Homo sapiens: one gene and its partners. The protein of the gene in region 3 interacts with the protein of the main gene of each other region in a biochemical or structural test. Each region holds a gene or a part of one and is shown on either strand. Other genes may lie near its edges. The genes, in order: PDZRN4, GRID2IP, RPS6KA3, MAGI3, APBA2, CTNND1 and MAST1.

The links.
Region 1: the proteins of RPS6KA3 (region 3) and PDZRN4 interact in a test that uses a peptide from one of them, tested with the Homo sapiens proteins (one large-scale study listed by IntAct).
Region 2: the proteins of RPS6KA3 (region 3) and GRID2IP interact in a test that uses a peptide from one of them, tested with the Homo sapiens proteins (one large-scale study listed by IntAct).
Region 4: the proteins of RPS6KA3 (region 3) and MAGI3 interact in a test that uses a peptide from one of them, tested with the Homo sapiens proteins (one large-scale study listed by IntAct).
Region 5: the proteins of RPS6KA3 (region 3) and APBA2 interact in a test that uses a peptide from one of them, tested with the Homo sapiens proteins (one large-scale study listed by IntAct).
Region 6: of the proteins of RPS6KA3 (region 3) and CTNND1, one has a biochemical effect on the other in vitro, tested with the Homo sapiens proteins (one study listed by BioGRID).
Region 7: the proteins of RPS6KA3 (region 3) and MAST1 interact in a test that uses a peptide from one of them, tested with the Homo sapiens proteins (one large-scale study listed by IntAct).

The regions. Positions count from the first base shown.
Region 1 is NC_000012.12:41,506,244-41,510,299, reverse strand, and holds part of PDZRN4 (PDZ domain-containing RING finger protein 4), read right to left. Parts: intron 3,845-4,056; coding exon 3,588-3,844; intron 490-3,587; coding exon 387-489; intron 1-386.
Region 2 is NC_000007.14:6,506,305-6,510,360, forward strand, and holds part of GRID2IP (delphilin), read right to left. Parts: coding exon 3,979-4,056; intron 3,849-3,978; exon of another isoform or gene 3,712-3,848; intron 3,010-3,711; coding exon 2,654-3,009; exon of another isoform or gene 2,602-2,653; intron 2,098-2,601; coding exon 1,681-2,097; intron 84-1,680; exon of another isoform or gene 1-83.
Region 3 is NC_000023.11:20,176,410-20,180,465, forward strand, and holds part of RPS6KA3 (ribosomal protein S6 kinase alpha-3), read right to left. Parts: intron 676-4,056; coding exon 587-675; intron 108-586; coding exon of another isoform or gene 90-107; coding exon 25-89; intron 1-24. UniProt on the Homo sapiens protein: Serine/threonine-protein kinase that acts downstream of ERK (MAPK1/ERK2 and MAPK3/ERK1) signaling and mediates mitogenic and stress-induced activation of the transcription factors CREB1, ETV1/ER81 and NR4A1/NUR77, regulates translation through RPS6 and EIF4B phosphorylation, and mediates cellular proliferation, survival, and differentiation by modulating mTOR signaling and repressing pro-apoptotic function of BAD and DAPK1.
Region 4 is NC_000001.11:113,396,860-113,400,915, forward strand, and holds part of MAGI3 (membrane-associated guanylate kinase, WW and PDZ domain-containing protein 3), read left to right. Parts: intron 1-4,056.
Region 5 is NC_000015.10:29,049,818-29,053,873, forward strand, and holds part of APBA2 (amyloid-beta A4 precursor protein-binding family A member 2), read left to right. Parts: intron 1-4,027; 5' UTR 4,028-4,056. UniProt on the Homo sapiens protein: Putative function in synaptic vesicle exocytosis by binding to STXBP1, an essential component of the synaptic vesicle exocytotic machinery. May modulate processing of the amyloid-beta precursor protein (APP) and hence formation of APP-beta.
Region 6 is NC_000011.10:57,792,325-57,796,380, reverse strand, and holds part of CTNND1 (catenin delta-1), read right to left. Parts: intron 2,372-4,056; coding exon 2,300-2,371; intron 805-2,299; coding exon 652-804; intron 1-651. UniProt on the Homo sapiens protein: Key regulator of cell-cell adhesion that associates with and regulates the cell adhesion properties of both C-, E- and N-cadherins, being critical for their surface stability.
Region 7 is NC_000019.10:12,862,253-12,866,308, reverse strand, and holds part of MAST1 (microtubule-associated serine/threonine-protein kinase 1), read right to left. Parts: intron 1,501-4,056; coding exon 1,362-1,500; intron 1,264-1,361; coding exon 1,131-1,263; intron 994-1,130; coding exon 828-993; intron 593-827; coding exon 491-592; intron 330-490; coding exon 207-329; intron 1-206. UniProt on the Homo sapiens protein: Microtubule-associated protein essential for correct brain development. Appears to link the dystrophin/utrophin network with microtubule filaments via the syntrophins. Phosphorylation of DMD or UTRN may modulate their affinities for associated proteins.

The DNA of each region.
Region 1 (4,056 bases), on a different chromosome or scaffold from region 3:
TTTAGTTTATCAATGAAAATTAGAATATTATACAACAAATGAAAATAGTAAACACAATCTTTGTTTTAAATATATTTTTCAAACTCCACTTGGAAATCCACATATATTATAGAACAGATTTTAAAAATGTAGCTGTTGCAATATTATTTATTAAAAAGCAACAAAATGAGAGCAAATTATATTTAAGCTTATACTATAAAAATATTTTCCAATATACTTAAAACACGAGAGCCACATAGCTAAAGCAAATAGTATTTGAAAGATCTTACACTGGATATGTAATAGACAAGACATTTCTCACTGTAATAAATTAATTTCTTTGTTATACAAAACCCCTCAACCGTAACTTCATGAAGAAATGTGAAGTGGTATGAAAATGACCTTACCTCATATTCAAAGTCTTCTGTTCTGTCTGCATCAGCAGGCAAGCTGGAAATATACTCATTGTCCTCATAAAATTCATGCTCCATTGGATGTAGAGAATGGCAGCTATGGGGAATGTAGCAATATGATAGGAATAGATTAAATGGGTTGTTTTCCAGATTAAAACTGATTTTAGAATTTCACTTTAGTTTGCTCTGCTTTGGAATAAGATCTGTAGTGATCTAGTCTTTAAACAAACTACAGCTGAGGAAAAGCAATAGCTTTTCTTTCTCCCTCTACGTGAAGTCCATCAATTTGCAATTTCTGAGAGAATGCTAGGAATAAGGGCCTATGGTCAGAGTTGTATTCTGTGGAAAGACTGATGTGAAATCTCTGACAGTCCGTGGTGCTTTATTGATACTTTCTGGCCTGCTTCCATTCCACTGAATGTGACAAGCTCCATACGTGGGTGTGTGGCATTTGAGATTGCAGTCTACTCAAAGAGGGGTATTTTGTCATAAAGTACTACCAATTTCATAATCCACAGCTGCAAACTATTTTTTGAAAACCATTTTCAAAAGCACTTATTTTTTCAGACTCTAAAATGTGCTCACATTGTCCCCTCCTCTCTTTCTTAAGATCCCCCTTTCTCACTCTCCCTCATAATGCACATTTTCCCCTCTTTGATCAAGGACATATACACAAATATTAAAGAACATTCATGGCGATCAATCAGTGGAAACTCCTATAAGCCACAAGGTTTCAAAATACCTTTAGAAAATTCTCAGTGACAGAGAGAGCAGATTACATTAAGGAAATGAGAGGATATGGCTTTTATGTATTTCAACTTTTAGGAAATTTTTAAATAGTTTGTAAACATGTTATTCGATTTAGTATGTTCTGATATAAAGACTACACATCATACCATATGAAGACTAAGCATAGTTTAACAGCAAAGAGCATAAGGCCTTTTCTATTTCTAAAAGACACTGAAAAAGCCTAAATACAATTGACAAGTTGGTTGCAGATGAGACCTCTAACTCCTGCCAGTGTGGATCTTTTTGAAAAATTGGAGATAGCAGTATCAATTAGTTCCCTTCTCCCTTGTTGAAAGGCAAGAGACCCATCCTCATGCCCTCATACTATAGTCAGCGTAAATATTCTACCAGCCTCTCCTCACTACTATCTATGGCTGTCAGCTCCACACAGGTCTAACTAGTGTAGGCCAAAATGGTAAAAGTAATACAGGCAGCACCTTGCCTTGTGTCTACCAGATAAATCTCCTTGCTTATAGCTGGACTGGGTCCGCATAGCCCTTTTGGGCTCTTGGAATATCGAAGCCTGCTGCTTTGGACATCTGATGTGTTTCCCTTGTCTTTCGGATAGTAAGAAGGGAGCCCTGCTGTGAGGAACACTTTATTCATTCGACGTTTATTTAGTGGCTGCCAGATGCAAGGCCAAGTGCTGGAAATATGTTGGTTTACAAAATCCAATTCTGCCCTATTAATTGGGGAAAGCAGCAAAGTGGGAATTTTAATACAGTGCAATAATTAAGGGAAAAATACAGGAGCCTTGGGAGCACATGGTAGGGGTGGACCCACTGCAGCCCTAGGAAGTTTTCTAGAGGAGGTTGTCTCTAAGCTAAGGTCTGCAGGACCTAGGAAGAGCAGCAAGATGCACTGGCTAAGGGGGTAGGCATTGGGGTCAGACCTCTTAGGCCTAGAAGCCTGGCCCTGTCACTTTTTTGCTATGTGATCTTGGCCATGTTACTTAATATCTGTTCCCTCATCTTAGACATAGAATGTTGATAATATAATGTACTCCCTCCTAAGATTATTGTGAGAACTAAATGAGTCAATAAATGCAAAACGTTTGGAATAATACTGAAAGCATGTTAAGTTAGCTAATACAAGCTAGCTATTATTATTCATTCAAGGAAGTATTTGTTGGATGGCTACTATGTTTTAGGCTGTATTAATGAATATTATATATTTGTTTCCTTGCTTTTTGTTCAACTCCCCTTGTAGAATATAAACTCTAGAAGGCAGTGACTTTATTTTTGTTCATAGTTTTATGCCAAGCATCTAGTTGCAAGCCCTGACACATCCAATTTGTGTCTGATACAAAGGGCTATTTAAAATAAAGAGATACCCAAGACAAACAGATCCCCTGCCTTCCTGGAACTCGAAGTCTCAAGAAGTGTTTTCAAAACTTGGCTGCACATTAGGATTGCCTAGGGAGACTTTTGAAAATTTCTGATGCCTAAGCCTTACTCTAAGAATTCTCATTTAATTGGCCTAAGGAGTGATTCAGGTACTGATACAGCTTCTGAAAGTTCCCAGGTGATTCTATTGTACATCTGTGACCCACTGAAACGGGCTTATGGGAGCCAGCCATCAAAGGGCAGGAAAGTGGCATGACTCAGATCTTTGTTTTATGAAGTAGAGAGCGGATTGGAGTAGGTGATGAAAATGCAGGCTAAGGAGACTATTGCTCTTACAAACTCTCAATGTTTGAATATTTGCTCGAAAGCTCACAGAACACAATGAATTGGGCAAGCATACTTTTAAAACTGTTCAAGTAGGATTATTTGAATAAAATCTCTCTGACTTCCTTTAAATTAGGCAAAAATCAGGAGGAAGTATTCCTTGAATAGATCTTTATTTGATAGCACTATACTTACTCTCTGACAGCCAAGATCCTTTGTTTATATCTCAATATATTGGGTAAGTGCTTTCGTCAGAGAATTGCACTTTAATTAAATCAATTTCCTAGCTTCTCTTTAAAGAAGAGAAATGCAAGGAAGAGAGAGAGGTGGCCCACAGAGGAGAATGTGGTGCCAAGATGCCACTTCCACATGAGTCTTAATAAGGTTTTTGGCAGCTTTGGTGAGAAAAGTGATTTCCCTGACCAGTGTTCATGAGTAGCATGAGGCTTTTGACAGCTAGTAATATGAAGATGAACTAATCAGAGCCAGAATTTTTCACAGCAGCTAGCAAGTATGATTACCCAGGTGGAGCAACCATGTGGGTCAGGGAGAGTAGCTAGCAGGGACCACTGAGAACTAATTGCACATATCAAAACAGGGGAGACATTTTCCAAACGGAGCTGGGAAGCCTGTCTCCATAACTGTCAACCTGCTAGTGGAACTGCTTCTTTTCAACATCTGCTTTACGTGACAAATGGAAACAAACAGGGCTTTGGAAGAAATGATAGAAAAATACCTGTCTGAGAGCAGGAATGGACAGATGTCTGGCACTGGAGGGGTAGGTGGACGAAGCTTGGCCAGAGCCATGATGTGTTCGAAGGTGATGTCCGTCTGAGTGCTGGCATTCATAAGCTGCACTTCTGAAGCCATCCCATAGGCTGGTCTACTAAGAGGTGTTCGCCTTAACACCTGCACCACAATGGGCTCCTTGGCATTGCGAAAAGCTTCCACTGCCTCTTCATGAGTGGCCTTTGAAAGATCCTTCCCATTGACCTACAAACATATAAGGACATTGTTCATCTCAGAGGAAAGATCAGAGAGGCTGTCATGATAGATTAATAAAAGACAGAGAGAAAGGTTTCAACCAGCCCTGATATGAATTTTGTAATGGAATATTTAATCAGATATTAATATTTACTGAAGTCTTTACCAACATGATGAAGTACCTGAGATTACAACAACAATTACTTCTGTATCTTTATAAA
Region 2 (4,056 bases), on a different chromosome or scaffold from region 3:
GCTGGTGCTGAGAGAACTGCAACTGTGACAGCCTAGGGGCCAGACGCTGGACACGTGGCTGTGATGAATGGCATAGATGAGAGGTAACAGCCTGGGGCTGGGGCAGGGAGTGCGGACGGGGTGGCTGCCAAAGGGAGAGAACCCAAAGGGAGGGCAGGCAGGGGAATGAAGTCTTAGAACATGGCTGCAGGGCAGGGACACTGAGGATGGATTTGGGTTTGGCCACATGTGTGACCTGTGTCCCTGTGTCCACCTTTGGTAACCAATGGAAGAACCACGCTGTGGAGCAATACTTGAAGATCGGTCCAAGGCTGGCAGGAGTGAGGTCTCCAGGGGACCCAGGAGGTCCTTATTTGTGCCCTTGTCTCACTGAGGTATTTTTTTTTTTTTTTTTTTAGATAGGGTCTCACTCTGTACCCCAGGCTGGAGTGCAGTGGTGCCATCTTGGCTCACTGCAACCTCCACCTGTGGGAATCAAGTGATTCTCCCTCTTCAGCCTCCCGAGTAGCTGGGACCACAGGCATGCACCACCAGGTCTGGCTAACTTTTTGATTTTTTTGTAGAGACAAGATCTCACTATGTTGCCCAGACTTGTCTTGAACTCTTAGGCTCAAGCAGTCCTCCCGCCTCAGCCTCCCAAAGTGCTGGGATTACAGGCGTGAACCACCAAGCCTGGCCTCAATGGGCATCTTTATTAGCAACTTGGAAAGGGTCCCTGGAGATGTGGGCTGAGAAAGCAGGAGACAGAATTGGGACCCAGGAGATGGCAGTGGGGAAAAATCACAAGCATGCCTCTGCCCAGTGTGACTACATGTGAGAGTGAGCTATTGATCCCAAGAAGATGGAGTTGAGGATGATGGTGATCATGAGCACTGGGACGGGGCAGCCCTGGGAGCTGGAAGGAGCCCCTGCCATATTAAAAGGAGTATGATGTCCCAGTCAAAGGAGCTGAGAACCCTGTTCTCTCCTCTGAGCTGGTCAAGCCCCATTGGGGGTTCCATCTGGGAATGTCTCTTTGACAGGGACATGGACACTGGAGTGGGGGTTGGAAACCATGTTCTAAGAGAATGATCTGAAAAAAAAAAAAAGGGGTGGGGTGAACCTTGTTCATCTTGCAGATTGGTTGGTCTGTGGATAAGATTGCTCTGCCCGATTTTAAGGGCCAGAAAGAAAACAGGGCATGGGAATCCTGGGGAGACAAGATTTCAGAGCAAGACAAAGGATGGTTAAAATCGTCCAGTGAGGAAAGGAAGACCTTGACAGGTAGTGAGTTCCCCACCACTGAAGGTGTTCAAGCATACACTGCCAGTGTTGTGAGGGAGGAACTTCAAGCATCAAAGTGAAAGGGTGAAGGCTGGTGTGCAGGAGTTTGAACCAGCTGCTCTTTTAAAGGTTTAAGAGAACTTGTCTGGCCTCAAAAGTGATAGGTTTCAAGGATGGGTAGGGTGGCATTTCCAGGTGTCCCCAGTGTGTGTCTTTGGCTGAGGGACACAGATTGGCTTCAATGCCTGCAGTGGCCCCCAAGCGTGGGGACGTTCTTGGGCTGGGCCTCTACTCATCCTCTGCTTGGGGTAGGGAGGATGATGTTGGAAGATGCCTGGCCGATGGGTTTTCCTTCAGTGCTGCTGCCCAAGCCATCCTCCCCCAGTACAGAGCGCTGCTGGGTCCCAGGTCACCTACCTGACCCCAGATGGTGCCTTCTGAGTTCTCCACCTGTTCCCACCGCAAGCGCTTGACGCTCATGTGGCTGGTCTCACTGCGCCGGTGGCCCAGGCCCCGGGACAGCATGGGGGGTGCACAGGGCACGGGTGGGGGCAGGGGCGGTGGGGGTGGTGGAGGGACTGGGTGGCTGAGTTGGGTGAGGGGCTTGGCCAGCGCCTGAGCAGGGCCCCGGGAACCATCAGAGCTGCGGGAGCTGGGCTTAGCGTCATGGAAAGGCAGGGGTGGCGGTGGTGGGGGGCTGAGCGGGGGTGGGGGGATGTGGTCAGAGATGGAGGAGTAGGTCAGGGAGCTGCCTTCTTCACTGCTGCTGATGCAGTCGCTGGCGCTGCTCCGCTCATTGGTTACGAAGCTGCCCTGGTCATCATGGAAGCTCATCTGGTGGTGGGGAGAGAGGCAAGGGGAGGGTGAGGCTGGGCCCAGAGAGACTAGAGCAGGTGCAAAGTGAAGGATCATGGGATAGCCTGGGACAAGGACAGGGCCATCTCACGGGTTAGCCTCAGGCTGTGAGGGACACCTGGGCTAAGGATAGGACTGTCTCACAGGTTAACCTCAGGCTGTGAGGGGGATAGCCTGGGCTAAGGATAGGACCCTCTCATGGGTAAGCCTCAGGCTGTGAGGGGGATAGCCTGGAATAAGGACAGGACCCTGTCACGGGTTAGCCTCAGGCTGTGAGTGGGATAGCCTGAGCTAAGGAATGGGCTAACCTGCGACAGGGAATATGGGCTAGCCTCAGTCAAGGAGCATGATAACCTTGAACAGGAGATAGGGTAACCTGGGGCAAGGGGTGGGATAGCTTGAGCTAGGGAGTGGGATAGCCTGGGGAAGATCCCAAGGGCAGCAGGCCCCTTGCGGGAGCCCAGGAACACTGTTGCCTTGCAGACCGCCACACCTCGCCTCACCCGCCTCCCTCCACACCTGCTTGCGTGCCCACCTCCTCGTAGTCGTTCTCCGGGGTCAGGAAATCATCCACGATGGTGACCCGGGGGCCCAGCTGCTCGCTCAGCACGTCCAGGAAGCGGTCAGTATCGCGGCTTCGCACAGGGTGGGAGAAGGTGAAGAGCTTCCTGCGGCTGGGCGGGCGGGTGGGGTCCGGGCTTGGGGGGCTGTCGGGGCAGATGGGCCCGGGGCCTGGCTGTGGGGAGGGTGCCCTGCTGCTGTCCAGGCTGGCGTAGGGGTGGGACTCAGAGCTGCTGGGGGAGGCCAGACCCCCCGAACACAGCGGGTGGTAGCAGGGGGAGGGCAAGAGTCGCTCGCTGGGCCATGAGACGCCGGACAGGGTCCTGGGCCCTGGAGGAGGGATGGAGTATGAGGATTCCTCTTCAGCCAGCACCGAGGTTCCAGGTGCAAGCTGGAGAGAGGGTCCTAGGACAGACTGGCTCTGTGTCCCAGGCCACTCTCCTTTCCCTCTCTGGGCACAGTGCAGGAAGACCTTGAGCGGCCCTGCCTTCCAAGCATGACTAAAGGCCAGATCTGGTGAGCAGGAGCACTGCTCGGCCTCAGGACAGGCTGGACGCCAGCTCACCTTGGAATGGTCACCAGGGGTCCCAGCTGGGAGCCACTGAACACCATTAACTCAAAGGGTGGAGGGGTTTCTCTAGGGCCCAGAGCCACAGTCATGGAGCGTCTCGCGCACCCAGCAAGCCCTGAGATCACAGGAGGGCCTCCCAGGGCTCCTGCCTTCTGAGCTGCAGAGCAACTGTCTTCCCAGCTGTGCCAACGCTGGTACAACGCGTTGCACTTGATCATTTATCCAATAACCACTTGCTAACTCGGGGACTTCCTCAGAATCAGGCATCTGCCTTCTTTCTTTTTCTTTTTTAAGACAGGGTCTTACTCTGTTGCTTATAGGCTAGAGTGCAGTGGTTCGAAATAGCTCACTGCAGCCTTGAACTCCTGGGCTCAAGTGATCCTCCCGCCTCAGCCTCTTGAGGAGTTGGGACTACAGGCATATGCAACCATGCCCAGCTAATTTTGTATTTTTTTTGTTAGAGATGGGGCCTCACTATGTTGCCAGGCTGGTCTCAAACTCCTGGGCTCCATTGATCCTCCTGCCTCGGCCTCCCAAAGTGCTGGGATTACAGGCACGACCCACGGTACCCAGGCTACTTTCTTGATCCACAGCTGAGGTGAGGGTCACAGGGCCATGGGAGGGACTGGGACAACCCTGACCCTGATGGAGCAGAGAAGCAGCTCCAGGGCTGAGCCTGGGGTGGAGGGAAACACCCAGACAGTAGATGACAGAGGCTGGAGCCCTACCTGTGGTGACTGCTGGGCTGGGGCCTGGAGGGGAAGCCCGGGATTTGGACACGGTCCCCATCTTCCCTTTGAAGCTGC
Region 3 (4,056 bases):
AGCAAGTTTTCATTCTATACTTACATTCCAGTCTATCGTTGAGAAAAATGAATGTCTTTTAATTTCTTCAACTCCATCTGGTCCTGCACCTATCAAAAATGGATTCACTGATAATTTTATTTCAAGGAGAAATATACATATTGCTCAGCCTTTGTTTTCAATACTTGTCTAATTAATTAATTAATTAATTAATTAATTTTGAGACAAGGGCTTGCTCTGTCACCCAGGCTGGAGCGCAGTGGTGTGATCTCAGTTCACTGCAGCCTCAACCTCTCAGGCTCAAGTGATCCTCCTACCTCAACTTCCTGAGTAGCTGGGACTACAGGCACGCACCACCATGCCTGGCTAATTTTTGTATTTTTTGTAAAGATGAGGTTTTGCCATTTTTCCCAGGCTGGTCTTGAACTCCTGGACTCAAGTAATTCTCCCGCCTTGGTCTCCCAAAGTGCTGGGATTACAGGCGTGAGCCACCAGGCCTAGCCTTGTCTAAATAGTTAATAATTCCACCACAAAACAAATATCTACTCCCCGCTAAAAACAAACACCAACAAACATACAACATAAACAAATTAGTTAAAATTTTTACCTAATCTGTTTGCAGGATTTCGCTTGAAAAGCATTCGTAAAAGACTCTGCGCTTCAGGACTCAAAAACTGTGGCATTCCAAGTTTGGCTCTAAATAATAAATCCACATAATATTTTATTTTTTGGAGGCATCTGTATTTTTATTTTTAAAAATTCTTAAATTAAACTTTTTGAGATACTTGTAGATTCACACTCAGTTGTAAGAAATAATACAGAGAGATCCCCTGTGCCCTTTACCCAGTTTCCCCCAATGGTAACATCTTACAAAACTACAGTACAATATCACATCCAGGATATTGACATGGAGACAATCCAATGATCTCATTCACATGGCACTGGTTTTATTTGCACTTATTTGTGTGTGTGTTTAGTTCTATGCCATTTTATTACATGTATGGCTTCTGTATGAATATGTCACAGTTTATTTATCCATTATCTGTTGAAGGACATTTGGGTTGTGCCCAGTTTGGGGCTAATATGAATAAAGCTACAGTGAACATTTATGTACAGGTTTTCATGTGAACACATAACTGAATTTTAGTTCATAATCTAATAAGCTTTTTCATTTTTCAAAATTTTGCAAAGAGCACTGTGAAAGTAAGATCATTTGAATCCTAGTTCTGGCTCTGTTACTAAGAACTTTGTGACAGTGGGAAAGCCAATTATTCTGGGCCTGTTATCATTTCTTCATAAGCAAAGGGATTGGTCTCTAGACCAATAGCTCCCAAAGTATAGCCTCGGAACTCCTCCTCAAAGGGAATTTAAGAAACCTAACATTTAAAGCTGCTAAGAGAACATGTGTTTCATATGCCACTTTTTCCTTTCTATTCCCTTTAACAGCCCCTGAAGGGAAGGGGAACTGTGGGAAAGAGGATTGTGAAATATTGAAGATACACAGTCTAAAAACTGCTGGCCTAGATGAACTTGAAGGTCTGTTTCAGCTCTAATTTTAATTCTTTTTCCAAACCTACAAATTAAAGAAACCAATGATCCTGTAAGTATGACAATAATAATAGAGCTGGGGAAAATTCCTATTTCAGAAACAGATCCATTTATTATTCAGTGGGTTGTTATTGAGCTATTACATGCCAGACACTGTTTAGTGCTGAGGATACAGAGATAAAGAGAGCCCATGAAACTCATGGTCCATGGTGAAGATGGATACAGATAATGCTAGTACATTAAGAGACAAATGCAGAAGAACATATGCAAAGAGTGACAAGGGAACAGTAGGGGATATTTAATTTAACATGGGAGATTATGAAAGGTCTTCAATGCAATCTAAAGGCTAACAATTTATTCATTTGGCTAGTGTTTCCCCAAATTTTACTGAATAACATTAATCCCTCTAGATAGTTAGCAACAATAAAAAAATTCATGACCCAATGAGCTTGTAGAATGCTATTTATTATATCCCCCTATTAGACACACAGAATTAAAATACACTGCATATAAAAAGGCTGAGAAATCTAGAGCAAACAAATCAGTTTTTTTTTTTTTTTTTTTTAAGACAGAGTATCCAGGCTGGACTGCAGTGGCACAATCTCGGCTCACTGCAATCTCTGCCTTCTGGGTTCAAGGGATTCTCGTGTCTCAGCCTCCCAAGTAGTTGGGATTACAGGTGTGTGCTACCACACCTGGCTTTTTTTTTTTTTTTTTTTTTTTTTGTAGAGATGGAGTTTTGCCATGTTGACTAGGCTGGTTTTGAACTCCTAGCCTCAAGTGATCCTCCCACTTCAGCCTCTCAAAGTGCTGGGATTATGGGTGAAATCAGTATTTTCTAAGTATTTATTTCCAGCACCTCTTTTTCAAAGAATACCTATTAATATCTTGTAGAATTAATATTCTCTTGGACAAATCTGGGGAAACACTATTGTATTAGGTAACAAGGATGCAGCAGAGGTCCTGAAACTGGACTAACATGACTAGACTTATTTTCAAGAAGGTAACTCCAAGGGTAATAGAGAACAATTTGGAGTGGGAAGAGGTCATAAGTGGTAGGCAATCAACTTAGGAATGTGGTCAGATAGTATGGGTAAGAGGTCACTGTTTTCTGAATACTTTAAGCAGTTTAATTCAGAGGAAAGGCTGGAACAGTGAAATAATTCTGAGATCGAATTTGGAGAATACCTAATTATGCAAAAGAGAGAAGGAATAAAAAATGATTTCCTGGTTTCTGGCTTGGAAGAGGGTGCATGAAAATGCTGATAACTGGGAGTATAAGAAAAGAACAGCAAATAAAGATACATTTAGTTCAAAGATGTGAAGTCATGCATGTAATATGTTTTGGGAGGGCCAGGCAGGTGAGTAAATAGAAACACAGGTCTAATGCCTGGTAAATTCATGTAAGAAAGAGTGATTTGAGAGTAATTAAAATGTGGAGGGTAGTTATAGGAAAGACTGAAGTCAGTCAGGAAAGAGTGCAGAGGGGGAAGAAAAGCATATCATAGACGGATCCTGGGGGATAAGACCATTTAAAAGGTAGTCAGAAAAAGAACAATTAGGGCATTAAAAATAATGACTGCAATTGGCTGAATCACACTGATTATTAAATCCCATGAGTTTATTATGTAAAGTAAGAAAAAGCAAAGTCAAAATACAAAAACTCGACTCACTGGATACTACCCCCACTAGGAAGTAACTAGGGCTCTGACATTAGAAACAATTTAAGAAAAGAATTAAGTATTTATTCTCTTTTTCTTGGATGAGCGTTATTTCAAGTAATTAAATCATCATAGTTGATGAGGGAAAGTTTGTTGAGAAAATACCAGCTAATAAATGAGGAAGGAATAATAATAATAATAGAAAATCATGGCTGGTGCATAGTGGCTCATGCCTGTAATCCCAACACTTTGGGAGGCGGAGGTGGGAGGATCACTTGAGCCCAGGAGTTTGAGACCTGCCTGGCAACATAGCAAGATACCATCTGTACAAAAGATTAAAGAACTTGGCTGGGCATGGTGGTGCACCTGTAGTCCTAGCTACTCCAGATGCTGAGGCAGGAGGATCGTTTGAGCCCAGGAGTTTGATGTTGCAGTGAGCTGTAATCATGCCACTGCATTCGAGTCTGGGCAACAGAGCAAGACCTCATCTCCAAAATTTAAACTTTTTTTTTTTTTTTTAAAAGAAAAGCAATTCATCACTTTTGAATTCCTTATAAAATAACTGTTTCAAGTAATGATTATTAATGGATAGAACCATTAGTTAAAAGCATGCCAGGGAACTTTACAACGGAGGAATCAGCTGCAACCACTGGAGCCCATCACTTAAAGTGGGGGCAACCAGGTATTGTAAGCCTCCTGATGTAATAGGGACCACACGGTATTAGCTGTGAAATAATCTTGCTAAAACAGTTTAACCAAAAACAGAATAGAGGATCAAGCTAATAACACTAAGGGAATAAAAAAAAATTTCCATACTCCTAGGAAAAGACTAATTGTTATGTAACCATGGTAACAAGAGAACCACCAG
Region 4 (4,056 bases), on a different chromosome or scaffold from region 3:
TTCACTTTTCTGCCAGTGTTTAAAACTCTTTAGGTAGGTCTTAGTATGAATTTTGGTGAAAATGAGACTAACTGGCTGCATAGTGTGCTATTCGAAAAAGTAGTGGAGCTGCATTTTAGAAAGGATTTGGGTTCTCAAGTCATCACAAAAAGAGGGAAATCAAATATAAGCAAAACTGTCTTTTCAAAAAGCCCTTAAATTGTGCATAAAATACTATATTGTACTGTTTGTAGGATGAGTCCAAATGCCACTTTTCCACCCATGTTGGAACCAATTGCAGTTTTTTGGTCGAATACCAGAAGAAGTAATTTGCTTGCATTAAAAAGATATGTTTTACAAAAAAACTTTTAATTCTAAGAAATTATCCTCATCTAGGTATGTACAGTGAATTTATGGAAATTAAATGTGTACATGAAGTGAAAGAATGATTTCTTTTCTTTTTTTCTTTTTAATATCTTGGTAGGATCCACGCCATCTGCCCTTGTTTTCTGACTTGAGTGGTTGAGGAATGAATTGTGAATAATTTTGAACTTGTTTGGGTTTTGAAAGATGACAGATTTTGGTTGAGTGGAATTAGGATCTTTCCAGTAGTAGGTAAGAAGCAGAGGAGGAGAAAAACACAGGGCAAAAACGTTCCATACAGAAAGGTTTACAGTGTGGTCCATCTCAATAATTTTGTGTGTGTTTGTGTACAAGGGCACAAAATCCACATTATAGAATAATTGGAAATTATTTTGTACAAGGGCACAAAATCCACATTATAGAATAATTGGAAAATAGAGGGAAGATCATATTAATTGTTTAAATGTATAGGTAGTTCCATTATGAATAGTCTCCTGTAAGTTTTTTTTAAATGTGTTATCTCCTCGAAATAATGCTCTAAGGTGCTTAATGCTATTTCTGCCTTCAGCCTCATTCCACTCATAATGTTATACTATGAATATTTTTATTTAACCCTTAATGTACCATTAGTTCTGTTCTTTATGGTTAATAGCCCTATTTTTGTTGTTTTGGAAGTCTAGCCAGTTTTATGGGAAAACACAATTTGCTAGCCTAGGAAAAAGGGAATTGAAAAATATATTTTCATCTTAATCCCGCCTTCCCTTTTGTTACAGCCACAGCCGACTGGCTTCCAGTGAGAAGGGTGGCATCATTATATCTCCATTCTTCCCTGAACCCTAGCAATTTATCCTGATGCAGCCACTCAGCTGCATTGCAGTGGTTTCCAGGAGCAACCCACTTACCTGCAGCCCCCACCCATTTCAGTCATCCCAACATGGCCAGGGGAACATAGATTACATTTTGAGGACCATAATTTGACTTATGACATATCTAAATACCTGAGAAAGGACACGCTGTCCTTATAGGTGATTAGGTACTTGTTTTATTAACACATACTGAGAGATATTGTTTTAGAGACTCTGTATGGGTTATGAAGGGTTAAACTTTTTTGCCATAATTTGTTTGGAGTTTAGGGTTTGGTTTTAAAAAATATCATGCAGTGGTAATTGGAAAAAATTTTGTTTCAAATTTATTAATAATTAAGATCTTTTCTATTTGGAGGCTTCCCTTTTTATTGTCTTGGGTATACAATGTGAACGGTAACCGATCTACTTAATTAAAACTTTCTGGCATTTTAGCCTCTTTGCTTTTGCTGGTTTTTTTGCACATAATTTGAAACACGTAATTATTATTTTCTGGCTTCAGGGGAGTTTGTGAGAGGCAAGCCTGTATCTCGTTGTTCTGATTGGGAATTACACATGACTATGAAAAATGGGATTTTACTATACATAATGGCATTTAACAGAAGTAGTTTTATGAAAGGAAAATATCCTACAAGGTAGGAAAAAAACAAGTATTTATTAATGCTTCATTTTCTGAACTTAAATAGAATTAAGCTAAATTGGCTTTGCTTTTTCCTCCAATAAAATAACTTTTAAAAATTCACTTTAATGGAGTAGTTCCAGAGATATATTACTCTTTGGATATGGTTATCTAGTTTGCAGCAAGTATCTTGTGATATATAGCTTAGATCTCAGCAGGAAAGAAAAAAATCTTAATTTACATATCAGTTTCTGTATTTGTAAGAATTCTGTAGCAAGTGACAGAAACGCTGTTGAGATTAATGTAGGCTAAGAAGAAATTTATTGACTTACATACATTAAAATCCAGGCATAGATCAGTAACAGCTAACTTCTGTTCTCAAGTGTTGGTCATTAGAATTATTATTTGGTTCTCTTTTCTTCTGGGTTGGATTTTTTCTCAGCTAGACTGTCAGTGTAGCGGTGAAGGTAGCTCTGAACCCCGAAGTCATACAGGGTCCTTAAAGCTTCTCATCTTTTTGGAGTCTAATAACAAATCTCATGCAGGGACTTTGGCCCTGTGCCCATCTCTTGGACCAATTATTGTAGAGAGAGGAGAGGACAATGAAGTGCCATGATTGGTCAGGCGTGGGGACATGTCTACCCTTGCAGCTGGGTATAAATAGCATAATATGATTAATAACTGTAGCAGAACCCCAAGACGTAAGGGAGGGGGAGTTCCTGAAAGGGTGGGATGCCGAGGAATCAATACTACAGGAAATGATCTCTTTTAAAACATTTAATCTCTCTTACTTGGAGGCCAGAAGTAGTACACAGTTGTCATAAAACTATCATTTTTAGAAAAACAGATATTGGCTGTAAACCAAAACTGATTTGATTTCTAGGCACTGCTTTTACTCAAATATTTAAATAAAAAATTGCTTTTATTTAAAAGTTATTTCTTTAAAAAATTGAAATACTGATACCTTAATGTGCACAATTTAAAAGTATTTCTTGTAATTTTTATTTAATTTTCTTTAAAAAAATTAAATAAGATTCTCTAAAATCAATGCTGTTGATTTTTAGGGAGATGGAATACTTTGGAAGATTAACAGTCTTTGGCATTGAGAAAAATATTATTAGCCTAGTTAAACAATTACGTTTTTAAAACAATTTTATTCTACCATTTTGAAAATGAAATTCTAAACGAATTACTTTCCAAGGTGTTTTGCTTTTAAAACAATGGTCTTTTTAAACACAAATTGAGACAATGTCATTATTGTAGTATTTCTGAGGGCTCCCTAATAATACTTTTTAACCATGATTTCGTGGAAATTATGTGAAAGGAACTACTTCACTGACTCTTATATAAAATGGGTATATAAGAGTTTTGAAACATTACTTAAGTATGGTGTCATGTGGTAACTGTTTAATTACCAAAAATGTTATTTGGCAGATATTGCAGGATAAAATCTGATCCCCTTTTTAAAGTTTTTTATAGCCTCCACTGGGAGAACAGAGGTACTCAGAGCAGGGGTAGACAGTTGAAAGAGAGGGGTGGGTGCTCCAAATAACATTTCATACTATTTTTATATTCTATTACTGTATCAATGTCTTCAGCTTTGGTGCCATAAAAATAATAATTTTAGTAATAACTTTGAGTTTATATATGCCATGCACAGTAGGAGTTTTGTAGTTTTGCCAAGTGTCATCTGGTAGTTGGATCTTTAGTGAATATTAAATGTTGGTAGATTATTGGTGAATGCACTTACTGTACATAAAAATGAACATTCATGGAATTGGGTGTGATTTGCCAGTAAGAATCATCATAGCAAGTACTTTGTATTGTTAGATTAGTTTGGGCACCCTTCGGATGACTTTAGACCATATTTGGAAAATTACTGCTTCTACTTCAAAAGCCTGTAATAATTAGAGTTCTCCAATATTAATTCCATATATTGATTAATTAAGCCATGAAATCTAGTAAAATGATATAGTCTTTATTACCTCTGTTCACAGAATTGTATCTCAATCCAACTTGGTAGCTTTCAGCAGAACACTTTGTCAAAATATTATTAATTTTAGCTAAGAATTCTATTCACTAATTTCAGTGTTTAAGTTAGAATGCACATGCTAGTGAAAATTTTAATTTCCTTTGAATAGAATTAGATTTGCTAACTAGAGCAATCTCACAATGTAATGCTGATGACTGAAATGACACTTCAGCCTCCCTTGGGTGACAACCCTAAGTTTA
Region 5 (4,056 bases), on a different chromosome or scaffold from region 3:
AGGAACTAATTTATACCACACAGAAAAAAATGTGAAATGGGTGCTATGAGTGTAAAGTTCAGTGATTTGGAGGGCAAATTCCAGAGATATTCCAGAAAGAGAAAAAGGCCATTAGGGAGAGAAATAAAAAAGAAATAGCAAGAATCTTCCTGTAACTAAAGTAAGATGTGGGACTTGATTCGGAAAGGGCTCACCAAATGAATCTCACATAAAATTAATGAGACCCTCATAAAATTAAAAAAGACCCTTATCTAGACATAGTTTGCTGGAATTTCTGAACTCTAAGAGTGGAGAGGAAATTGTATCAGCTTCCAGACGGAAGGAATAGATTTTTGTACCAAGGTAAAAAGAATCTGAATAGTATTAAAATGCACATCTGCGAGACTGTAAGCTAGAAGATAGTGGAACAGTGTTAGCAAATTATTGTGAAAAGGATGCAATACAATAATCTTATACCTAGCAAAGGTATCATTCTATGTGAGATCAGAGCCATTTTATAGATACAAAAGAGTTACCTCCTAAGTAAACAAAATGACTCTAACAATTATTTTTACAAAATAAAAATGAAATCCCACTAAATAGTTCAAGAGAAAGAAATGCAAAAAGTATAGGAAGCAGTGGTAAGTTATGAATTGAGTAATTATAGTCCAAATTATATTGTTGTCGTAGTGTTATACATCTGGAATAAATTTTTCTGAAATCATCTGAAGGCTTGGAGAGCTAATAGGAAACACCAGTGGAAAATAAACTCCTGGTTCTATTGTAGTTCTCCTACAATGTCCTCAGTGTTTTCATTTTTGAAAACTTGAATAACATTTTAATAGGATCTGGACTGTTCCATGTTACTGTAATGTGTATTTTAGTCCTTATGTCCTATATTGGCCTAGAGAATATTTTATTTAGTGTTGGTATACATATTTATATGTGCATATTACAGATTTTATCCCCCCGAATGACAGAGATTTTGAAGTTAAGATAGCAAGAGTACTGTGTACTTTAGTTTGTTCTCTTAACAAGGATGTGCATACCTTCAACGTGCACAGCTTGATGTCAGAGCCTGGCGAGAAACAGGGATGCTGTAGAGATGGCACCGCTATGCAAGGAATGGGAGCTGTGTGCTCATGTGCCAGTGATGTACCATCTGCCCTTTGCCGTCCTGACGTCAAGACATGGACGTCTGGTTGCATGTTAGCAGCTGCATTCAGCACATGCTTCTGAGAGACCGTTTTGAGGAATGTAGTTACTGGAGATTGTGTCTGAGAGTTGTGGTTGCTAAGTCCCTGACATCACTCCTGCAGCCTCTCTCTTGTGGCTGGCTGTCCTCTGTGAAGATAAGAAATCTGGTGACAAGTTATATGTGGTCTTTGAGGCAGCTCAGTGTTCTTGATGTGTCCTCTGACACATCTGGGTTGCAGATGTCTTAGTGAGTGCTGGCCCCTTGTTCTCTTCTAGGGAACAGCTCTTTCGAATTGTCCTGCCAGTTTCAGGGTTTGCGAATGGGGTGACGGGCCCTGCAGGGTCCATCTCAGTGACAATTTTCCTGGTGTGGGACATCTTTGCTGTCTGTGGGCCACTCTAGGGGGAGTGCTGTGAATTGCTCCGCATACCAGTGATGCTCCTGAAACACGGCCATGGACAAGCCTGTGCAGGTGGCGGAGTAAACATTGCTTCTTTAGATGTCAAGTGTCCTTGGAGTGAATTCACACGTTGGAAGCATGTGGCTCCATCAGTAATTGTGCCCACACTCTGAGTGTCTGGACTGGATGAAATAATTATCTCCTTCTTCGTTCTTTTGGGAATATTCATACTGCTGTAACCGTGACCATCTGGTACACTCAGTCTCATAACAAGATGTGTTTTGGGCACCACTACAAACAAGGTGCTGTGTTTGGAGCTCTGGGGGGATACACAATATGGAAGGCCTTGAGTTTGTGGCCTAAACTAAAGAGACAAGAGGGGAAGAGGAGGTACAGGAAGGCAAGATGAGAGCCCGGGCAGTGACTGCTGAGGGTCACTGATAGCTCCTCTTTCATCTTCACTTCCTGCTCCCATCTGAGCCCAGATCCCTTTGCTTCTGCCACCTAAGGTCCTCACTGAGCCACTTCTCCACTGTCCTCTCTACTGTTTTAGTTTAAGCTCTCCTTTTTTTTCTTTTTAAAAATTGCAGTAAAATAGACATAAAAAATTTAGCATTTTAAGCATTTTCAAGTGTGCAAGCTCTTAACTGGACTACTGGAATATGTTTTTTTAAATAATTGAACTATCATGCAAGCAAAAAGGCATGTGTAATGTAAGAGTACAGTTTAAAGAATATGACAAACATTTGGGGAAGCAATTAGCTGAAGAAGTAGAACGTTGCTGGGCGTGGCGGCTCACCCCTGTAATCCCAGCACTTTTAGAGGCCGAGGTGGGCGGATCACGAGGTCAGGAGATCGTGACCATCCTAGCTAACACGGTGAAACCCCGTCTCTACTAAAAATACGAAAAATTAGCTCGGCATGGTGGGGGACACCTGTAGTCCCAGCTACTCGGGAGGCTGAGGCAGGAGAATGGTGTGAACCCAGGAGGTGGAACTTGCAGTGAGCTGAGATGGTGCCACTGCACTCCATCCTGGGCGACAGAGCGAGACTCCATCTCAAAAAAAAAAAAAAGAAGTAGAACGTTAAGCAAACTTTTGGACGTCCTCTGTGCCACTTTCCTGATGCTAGCCCCTTGCTTTCCCCCAGAAGAGAGAATAGCCTTTTCACTGGTCTCCCTGCCTCTAGCCTCTAGCCTCTGTCCCCACGCCAGGCCCAGAGAGACAGGGCTAAAAGAAAAAATGTTGAAAATGGCTCAGTGACTGTGCACATGTCTTAGTCTGTTTTCTGTTGCTATAACAGAATACCTAAGACTGGTTGATTATAAAGAATGGAGATTTGTTTCTCACAGTTCTGGAGGCTGGGAAGTCCAAGGTCAAGGTGCCAGCATCTGGTAAGGGCCTTCTTGCTATGTCATCCCAAGGCAGAGGTGAGAAGGTGAGGGAGAATGAGAAAGAGAGCAAGAGAGAGCCAAACTCACTTTTATAACAAACCCACTCTCACAATAAAGAACTTCCTCCCAAGATAAAGACATTAATCCATTCATGAGAGCACAGCCCTCATGACCTAATCACCTTTCAAAGGTCCCACCTCTCAACACTGTTGCATTAGGGATTAAGTCTCCAACGCATGAACTTTGGGGGACATATTAAGGCCATAGCCGTGTGGTTTGGGGGATAAAGTGCAGAGTCCTGGGCACTGGGTCCAGGCCCTCTCCCAGTTTGGCCTGCCAGGTCTCTGCAGCTGCCCTGTCACCCCACGATACCTGCAGGCTGCGGCTGCACCCTTTGTCCTCTTCTCCCCATGGCCGAGCAGTGCTGTCCCCTCTGCTGAGCCCTCCAGCCTGCCACGCTGGGGACTTGTGTAGAGCTTTTCTGCACATTGCTCAGCCTGGATGGTCCCTGCGCATCCAGTTCCTCGGTGAACATTGTTCAGTTTGAGGGGGAAGAGGAGGGAGAGGATGGGATAAGCCTGAAGGGGAAGGTACCCAAGATAGTCTTTGAGGGGTCATGGATTTAGATTGGGAAGAGTTATTGTCCCTCCTCATTGGTCCTCATTATGTCTTCTTAATGAAAGCTGCTCATTTTCTTCGTGAGAGCAAACAACCTGATCTTCTGACCATTTGTCTTGGTCACCTGGGCTACCCAAACTGAGTGAGAAGTCAGGAATGAGCCGGTAGGTTCCTGGGGAGAGGCGTGTGTCCTCGTGAGTTGCCGGTGCCTCCCTTGACTGCTTTTCCCGGAGCTCTGTGTGCCCTCGTTCTCCTTGGTGTGGATGCGTGTTGTTCTGATGATGAGTTAGCGGGGGTGGGGATGGCGCACTGTTTGAACAGATGTGCCCTCACATGGCTGCGGGAGGACGTGGTGGGAGGTGCTGTGGTGAAGTGGCCCCACACATGGCTGGGCTTTGTGGGGTTTTGACTCTGTCCTTCCCAATGTTCCTCCCCACAGTGGCTGCCTCCGGGTGATGATGGCTGTGT
Region 6 (4,056 bases), on a different chromosome or scaffold from region 3:
GAGTCTTGCACTGTTGCCCTGGCTGGAGTGCAATGGCGTGATCTCGGCTCACCTGCAACCTCTGCCTCCCAGGTTCACGCAATTCTCCTGCCTCAGCCTCCCGAGTAGCTGGTATTACAGGCACACACCACCACACCTGGCTAATTTTTTGTATTTTTAGTAGAGACGGGGTTTCACTATGTTGCCCAGACTGGTCTCAAACTCCTGACCTCGTGATCCGCCCACCTCAGCCTCCCACAGGGCTGGGATTACAAGCGTGACCCACCGCGCCCAGCCATGAACAATTAAATTCTATACCACTCCAAAAGAAACAAATCTTTATATCCCTAGGTCACTTTACCTAGGAATGCCTTAAAGCCTACCATCTATCTTTCTTTCCATCCTATAGGAAGTCCCCAAGCAGGAAAATTGCCCTGACAGTAACTATGCTTATAAGGGAAGCTACTATAGACCCTGATATACCTTCTGTCTTCCCTATCCCATAAGATTTTCCCATCTCTTCATCCTTTCTATCTGGCCAGAGATCACTTCATGCAATCAGATCAATAATGGCATATCAGTCCTCCATCTTAATTAAGTGCTTAACCCCTCCCCTAATAGAGAAGAAAAGACCTCTTATCACTTCCAGATCTTACACACGTCTTAGTTTACCGTGGTCTCTGTGCGCCGAGTGGTCCCATCATCTGAGGTCTCCACAGAGACTACAGACATGGCTCCCTCAGGATCCTCCTCCGTGTAGGTCTCCACAATCTGCCCCGGCTCCTGCATCCTGGGGATGGTGCTATATAGAAGGTGACTGTGATCCTATATGCAAAAGAGAAAAGAGAAGAAACTACTATTAAGTGCTATGTATAACAAGCCATCCTAATAAGAAGCATAAGTGGTAAACCTGGAGACAGGGACTCCTCATGCATCTTCTATAGGCCTCAGGATTTTTAGATGGGTGGCTGTCATCTTTTGAACTTGTACAAAAGGACAGTAGACATAATTTCCCAGTTGTAGTCATTTAACAAACATGAACTAACTATAGCCACATCAACATCCAAGTGACAGACAGTAGATTTAACTTCCCAGCTGTGGTCATCTAAGTGAACATGAACTGTGTTAAATGCAGTTTCATCTATATCTGAGTGATCCCTCAAAAGAGCAGCTCACCCAATAAATAAATAACTTGTATTTATTTACTTGAGATAGGGTCTCACTCTATCACCCAAGCTAGAGTGCAGTGGCATGATCATAGCTCACTGGAGCCCCAACCTCCCAGGCTCAAGCAATCTTGCCATTTCAGCCTCCTGAGTAGCTAGAACTACAGGCTCACGCCACCATGCCTGGCTAATTTTATTTTTTTTGTAGAGACAGGGTCTATGTTGCCCAGGCTGGTCTTGAACTCCTGGGCTCAAGCAATCCTCCAGCCTCAGCCTCCCAAAGTGCTGGAATTACAGGAATGAGCAAACCACGCCTGGCCAAAATAAAGAACTTTGTTTTTTTTTTTTTTTTGAGACGGAGTTTTGCTCTGCCTTGGCCTCCCAAAGTGTTGGATTACAGGCATGAGACACCGTGCCCAGTCTAAAATAAAGAACTTTTTTTTTTTTTTTGAGACAGAGTTTTGCTCTTGTTGCCCAGGCTGGAGTACAATGGCATGATCTCAGCTCACCACAATCTCCGCCACCTGGTTTCAAGCAATTCTCCTGCCTCAGCCTCCCGAGTAGCTGGGATTACAGGCATGTGCCACCACGCCTGACTAATTTTGTATTTTCAGTAGAGACGGGGTTTCTCCATGTTGGTCAGGCTGGTCTCCAACTCCCGACCTGAGGTGATCTGCCCACCTCAGCCTCCCAAAGTGCTGGGATTACAGGCATGAGCCACCATGCCTGGCCAAAAATAAAGAACTTTTAAGACAAACCTGAAAATCCCAGTAAGAGCCATCTTTTGACTGGCTTTATGTTACTCTTCAGATACCGTCTAAAAGGCTCAAGACCAGCCAGATTTTAGGTAGGGTTTTTTGCTGCAAAGTAGAAGCCTACTGTCTCTAGAAAAGAAACGCAGTACTTAGGGATCAAATGGGGTGGCAGTGGGGAGGAGGAATAGTCATAAAGATCAATGGTCATTAAAATTCATTCCAAAACAAAACTGCATATATACTTTGGAGCTCCACTTCTTTGTTTTCGTAAATAAAAGAAACTAATTGACGAGTATGTACAATGTGCCAGGCACCTTACAAGACACAAATATGCTCTTATAGGCTGGGGAAATAAGAAAATATGAATGAAGCAACCCAGGTCTTGAGCCAAAGAATTACCTGGGGTCCGTTGAGTTTCAAATCTGAAAATTTCTGTCTTTCAAGGTCAGCATCGCCCACAAACCGGCCGTTCTGAAACACAGCCCACAAGAAGACAATTCATTTTGTGGCCTTCTTTTGCTCTATCAAATACAAACGATCTTTTTTTCAAACAGGAAAAGGGCTTTCAAGAAGATATGTGTGGCCTGGAGTCCTTGTGTCAGTACTCATAAAAGAACCATTCACTCTTTAGTCTTAGCACTTTCCTCAAAATTGAAAATCAGGCCTGGAACTCTGGCAGACAGGGTCTCTGGAACATAAGAACGTAAACTCCACGAGGGCAGAGGGTTTTTTGGGATAAGTTTAGTTTAGTCTAGTGCCTTGAACAGTGCCTGGCACATAACAGGTGCTCAAAAACTATTTGCTGAATAAACAGCACAGACCTAGATAATTTCCCTTACATGCAACCTTTTTGGAAAGCCATAAAAATGTAAGGAAAGTTGGAAGGGCTAAGTTGGGGGGTTTCCAAAGAGCTTTATAGTCTCATGAATCTTCATGCAGTACTACCACTGGAAACTCCCATTCCAGGCAGCTTTTTAAAGAAAGAAGCAAGATGGCTATCATGTCCTAATGTAAAAAACAGAAATTTAATTAAAGAAAAAAGCAAGAGATACGAGTCTCCCTTTCCAAGTACAAAAACAAGCACCCCAACTCCCCTCAAGAAAACAGAAGGCTCAATATCTTTACCAACAATTATTAGAGCCACAGAATACATTCCAAAATGTCATCCAGAAGTTGCTCTGTCTTAAGCAGCAGGAAATAATCTAATGACATTATACCACATAAAAATATATTTGCCTGCTCCTCTTCCAGTAGAATAGTGAGATCCAACCACCTTGGGAGACTCTTCCTCCACCCCACTCCCATTACATAGAGTGTAATGCTGCAGGGAGAGGAAGTTAAACATTACTTTCAGGAAGAAGGAAGGGTGTGGTTTTACTGCTAAGCAGAAGTTAAAAATAAGAGAGCAACCACATACTGAATCCTGGAATTCCCCATGACCTCCAAACCTGAGCAGTCCAGCTTTCTCCTTTCAATATAATTTCATCCCTAACTTTCTATTGTAGTTCCTGTAAAAATCCTAGGAACACTGCAAGCATGCTGCCTCCCTCAAATTCCTTGATCCTCCAACTGGAATTCTGTTCTCTCTCAACTGCAAGGCTCCTCAGTATGAGGGACTTTCTCTATCTTAAAAAAAAAAAAAAAAAAATCACTCAGCCGGGTGCAGTAGCTCACGCGTAATCCCAGTACTTTGGGAGGCCGAGGCAGGTGGATCACGAGGTCAAGAGATCGAGACCATCCTGGCCAACATGGTGAAACCCCATTTCTACTAAAACTACAAAAATTGGCTGGGTGTGGTGGCACACGCCTGTAGTCCCAGCTACTCAGGAGGCTGAGGCAGGAGAATTGCTTGAACCCGGGAGGCGAACGTTGCAGTGAGCCAAGATTGCACCACTGCACTCCTATTTAAATAAATAAATAAAAATTACTCAATGAAAAGGACTATCAGGGCATGAGTACTGTTCTGGTTCCCACTCAGAGATCTCTCGTAAGATGCAATCTATCAGGCAATGTCTACCACACACACACATGCGCGAGTGCGCGCGCACACACGCACACACACACAGAGGAAGACAGACAAAACCTCAGACAGATTACATCACAGCAAAGTCAGACTAGAAAAACCAGAGGAAACACAAGATACTTCTCATTTCTAA
Region 7 (4,056 bases), on a different chromosome or scaffold from region 3:
CAGGTTCTTACCTACATTTCAGCCTGAGCCCCGCCTGTATGTCAGCCCCGCCCCACTTGGCCCCGCCCCCACCAAAATACCACCTTCGCACCTAGGCATCACATCTTGGTACTTAGCCAGGCCCTATCCCAGGCTTTACTTACCCCAGGGTCCCTCTTCCCGGATCCCACCCCTCGACCCAGGTCGTGCCTGGTGTCCCAGCTCACTGTCAAAGTAGCTAGTGTCATCTTCCGACTCTAGGTGGGGGATGAACTCGGCCTTCTGCCTCAGCAGCCCTGTCCAGTCCAGGTCTCGAAAGAAACTGTGCTGCTTCACCTCAAAAGCGCCGCCTGGGACGGAAGGGATTCCAGCCACAGCTGATGGCCAACCCAGCAGCCCAGCCCCGCCCCCCATGTCTTCCGCCCCGGGGCCACAGCACAGGCTGGGCCTGGGGTTTTGGAGGCCTGCTCTCTATCAGTGGGCCCTCAGCTCCTCTGCATGGCGGACTTACCTGCCCCAAGCCTGACCAGAGGGTTGGTCTGCAGGAGGCTGGATATGAGGAGTTGGGCCTCCGTAGGTAGGGCCTCATCCCCCTCGGGCCACAGGATGTCATCTGCAAAACAAAACGGAACTTAGGGGCGGTTTTTGTTGTTGTTGTTGTTTGGACACAGGATCTCACTGTGTCACCCAGCTGGAGTGCAGTGGCACGATCATGGCTCACTGCAGCCTTGACCTCCTGAGTGCAAGCGATCCTCTGGGGGGTCGCTTTTGAAATCCCTGGAACCCTGAGCCTGTCCATCTCTCCGTGCACACCACACTCTGCCCCTGTACACTGCCAAGCCACGTACCACTGATGACCTGTCCAAATAGCTCCTCTGGTGTGTCTCCGAAGAAGGGCACACAGCCCACCAGGAACTCGTAGAGGATGATCCCCATAGCCCACCAGTCCACTGGCTTGCCGTAGCCTTGACGCAGGATGACCTCGGGCGCGATGTACTCTGGGGTCCCACACACCTGGGGGCAGGCTGTCAGCCCACGCCCCAGCCAGAGGAGGGCCCTCAAGGGAGAGCTGTGCCCCCCACCAGGCCCTGGGTTCCCGAGGTCCTGCAGGGTCACTCCACCCTCAGCGACCCCCATGCCCGCACACACACCTGTTTGTCCAGGAACTCTCGGGCGTCCTTCTCGATGTGGCCTTCATATAAGTTGGTGGTGAGGCTCATGAGCCCCATCTTGGAGAGGCCGAAATCTGTGAGCTTGATGTGACCCATGGAGGTGATAAGGAGGCTGTAGGCACAGGTGGGGATCTCAGGGATGAGGCCCGTCCATTCTGCCTCCTGGCCTCCCGAGGGACAGAGGGAGTGATGGGAAAGATCAAAGCTCACTTGTCAGGCTTGAGGTCGCGGTGCACGATGCCATAGTTGTGCAAATACTCCAGGGCTAGCACCGTCTCAGCAAAGTACATGCGGGCCATCTCTACGGGCAGCGCTCCAATATTCTTCAGCAGGGTGGCACAGTCGCCGCCTGCAGGCCAGGAAATGGGCCCGCATAAAAAGGGAGGCATTCCTCTCTCTGGACATGCACCATAGCACCAACTTCTCATGTTATGTTGTACCCGTTTTATAGATAAGGGAAACTGAGGCTCTGAGAGGGGCCTCCCTCCCTCCAGGTCCTCTACTGGGTTCTTCTTGTCCTCTTAGCCATCCTCCAAAGTTGGTGTCATCAGCTCATCTTATACACAAAGGGATGGAGACTCAAAGAAAGGATGGGTCATGCAGGCAGTTGTTGGTAGAGGTGAGGTTTAGTTGGGGAACAAAGGCTACCCACTTATCAACTGCATCTGGAAGCACAGCCCTCTATCTCCTGGTGTCTGAACCTTGGAGCTGGAAGCCTTAGATGCAGATTCTTGGTCTTCACTAGATTTTTTTTTTTTTTTTTTGAGACAGGGTCTTACTCCATTGCCCAGTCTAGAGTGCGGTGGCAAGATCACAGCTCACTGCATCCTCAACCTCCCAGCTCAAGCAATCCTCCTGCTTCAGCCTCCTGAGTAGCTGGGACTACAGATGTGAGCCACCATGCCCAGCTGATTTTTAAAAAATTGTTCAAGGCTGGGCATGGTAGCTCACGCCTGAAATCCCAGCACTTTGGGAAGCCAAGGCGGGTGGATCACTTGAGGTCAGGAGTTCGAGACCAGCCTGGTCAACATGGTGAAACCCCATCTCTGAAAAAAGAATACTAAAGTTAGCCTGGCTTGTTGGCAGACGGCTGTAATCCCAGCTACTCGGGAGGCTAAGGCAGAAGAATGGCTTGAACCTGGGAGGCAGAGGTTGCAGAGATCCAAGATCGCACCACTGCAGTCCAGCCTGGGTGACAGAGCAAGACTCCGTCTCAAAAAAAAAAAAAAAAAAGTTTTTTGTAGAAACGAGTTTCATTGTGTTGCCCAAGCTGGTCTCCAACTCTTGGGTTCAAAGGATCCTCCTGCCTCAGCTTCCCAAAGTGTTGGCCACTGCCTCTGCCCCTCTGCCAGATTTACTGTAATTGGCATTGGTATTTCAGTTTCTCAATATCTATTTCCTTTTTATCCTACAAAGGCTAGATTTCCTTCCATGTGCAGCAACCGGGGCAGTATGTAACCCAAGTTGCTCCAGTGAGTTAGCCCTTGGAATTTTCACTCTTTTCCTGTAAGAATTGCTAAGCTCATAGAATGTAAGCTGAGATCTGCTAGATGGCAACCTTGCTACATGAGGGCTTGTCTAGAAGGAAGCCCACATGTGGGAGTACAGAGCCAAGAGATGGAGAGTTTCCTGATGGAATGGTTTGAGCACCTACATCCAGCCATTCCTGAAGGTAATATTGGTTTTTCAATCACCAATGACCAAGAAAGCTAATGATTTCTTTCTTTTTTCTGTTCTCTTTTCTGCGAGATTTTGCTGGTTTCAGAAACTCTCTGAGGGTGGGGCCCAGGAATCTGCATTTGAGCACATCTATTGTGCACACAGACCCACCATAGAGATACTGATTTGGCCCCCTTCTCTCCTCCTCCTCTGCAATGAACCTGGACTAGAGCAGTCATCTACCTCCTAGTCTCCTGATTCTGCTCTCTCCACAAGAGCCAAATGGATTATCTTTTCTTAATTTTTTTCTTTTTCTCTTTTTTTTTTTTTTTTTTTTTTTGAGTCAGAGTCTGGCTCTGTCACCCAGGCTAGAGTGCAGTGGCTCCATCTCGGCTCACTGCAACCTCTGCCCACTCACCGCCCCCGGGTTCAAGAGATTCTTGTTCCTCAGCCTCCCGAGTAGCTGGGATGATAGGCGTGCACCGCCACTCCTGGCTAATTTTTGTAATTTTAGTAGAAACAGGGTTTCATTGGCCGGGCACAGTGGCTCACGCCTGTAATCCCAACACTTTGGGAAGCCGAGGCAGGCACATCACCTGAGGTTGGGAGTTCGAGACCAGCCTGGCTGACATGGAGAAACCCCATCTCTACTAAAAATACAAAAATAGCCAGGTGTGGTGGTGCATACCTATAATTCCAGCTACTCAAGAAGCTGAGGCAGGAGAATCGCTTGAACCCGGGAGGAGGAGGTTGCGGTGAGCCAAGATCACGTCATTGCACTCTAGCCTGGGCAACGAGTTTAGCCAGAGCGAAACTCTGTCTCAAAAAAAAAAAAAAAAAGGAAAAGAAAAAAACAACAACAACAGGGTTTCACCATGCTGGGTAGGTTGATCTTGGACTCTTGACCACAAGTGTTCTGCCTGCCTTGGTCTCCCACTGTAAGTGCTGGGATTACAGTCGTAAGCTACTATAATGGGCCTCCAAATGGATTTTCTTAAAACATAAATCTGATCATATCAAATCTTCTTAAAACCCTCCATTAGCTGGACATGGTGGTGCCTGCCTGTAGTTTCAGCTACTTTTGGAGGCTGAGGTGGGAGGATTGCTTGAGCCCAGGAGTTCAAGGCTGCAGTAAGCTGTGATCACACCACTGCACTCCAGCCTGGACAATGCACTAAAAATAAAACAAAACAAGGCTGGGCGCAGTGATTCACGCCTGTAATCCCCATACTTCGGGAGGCCGAGA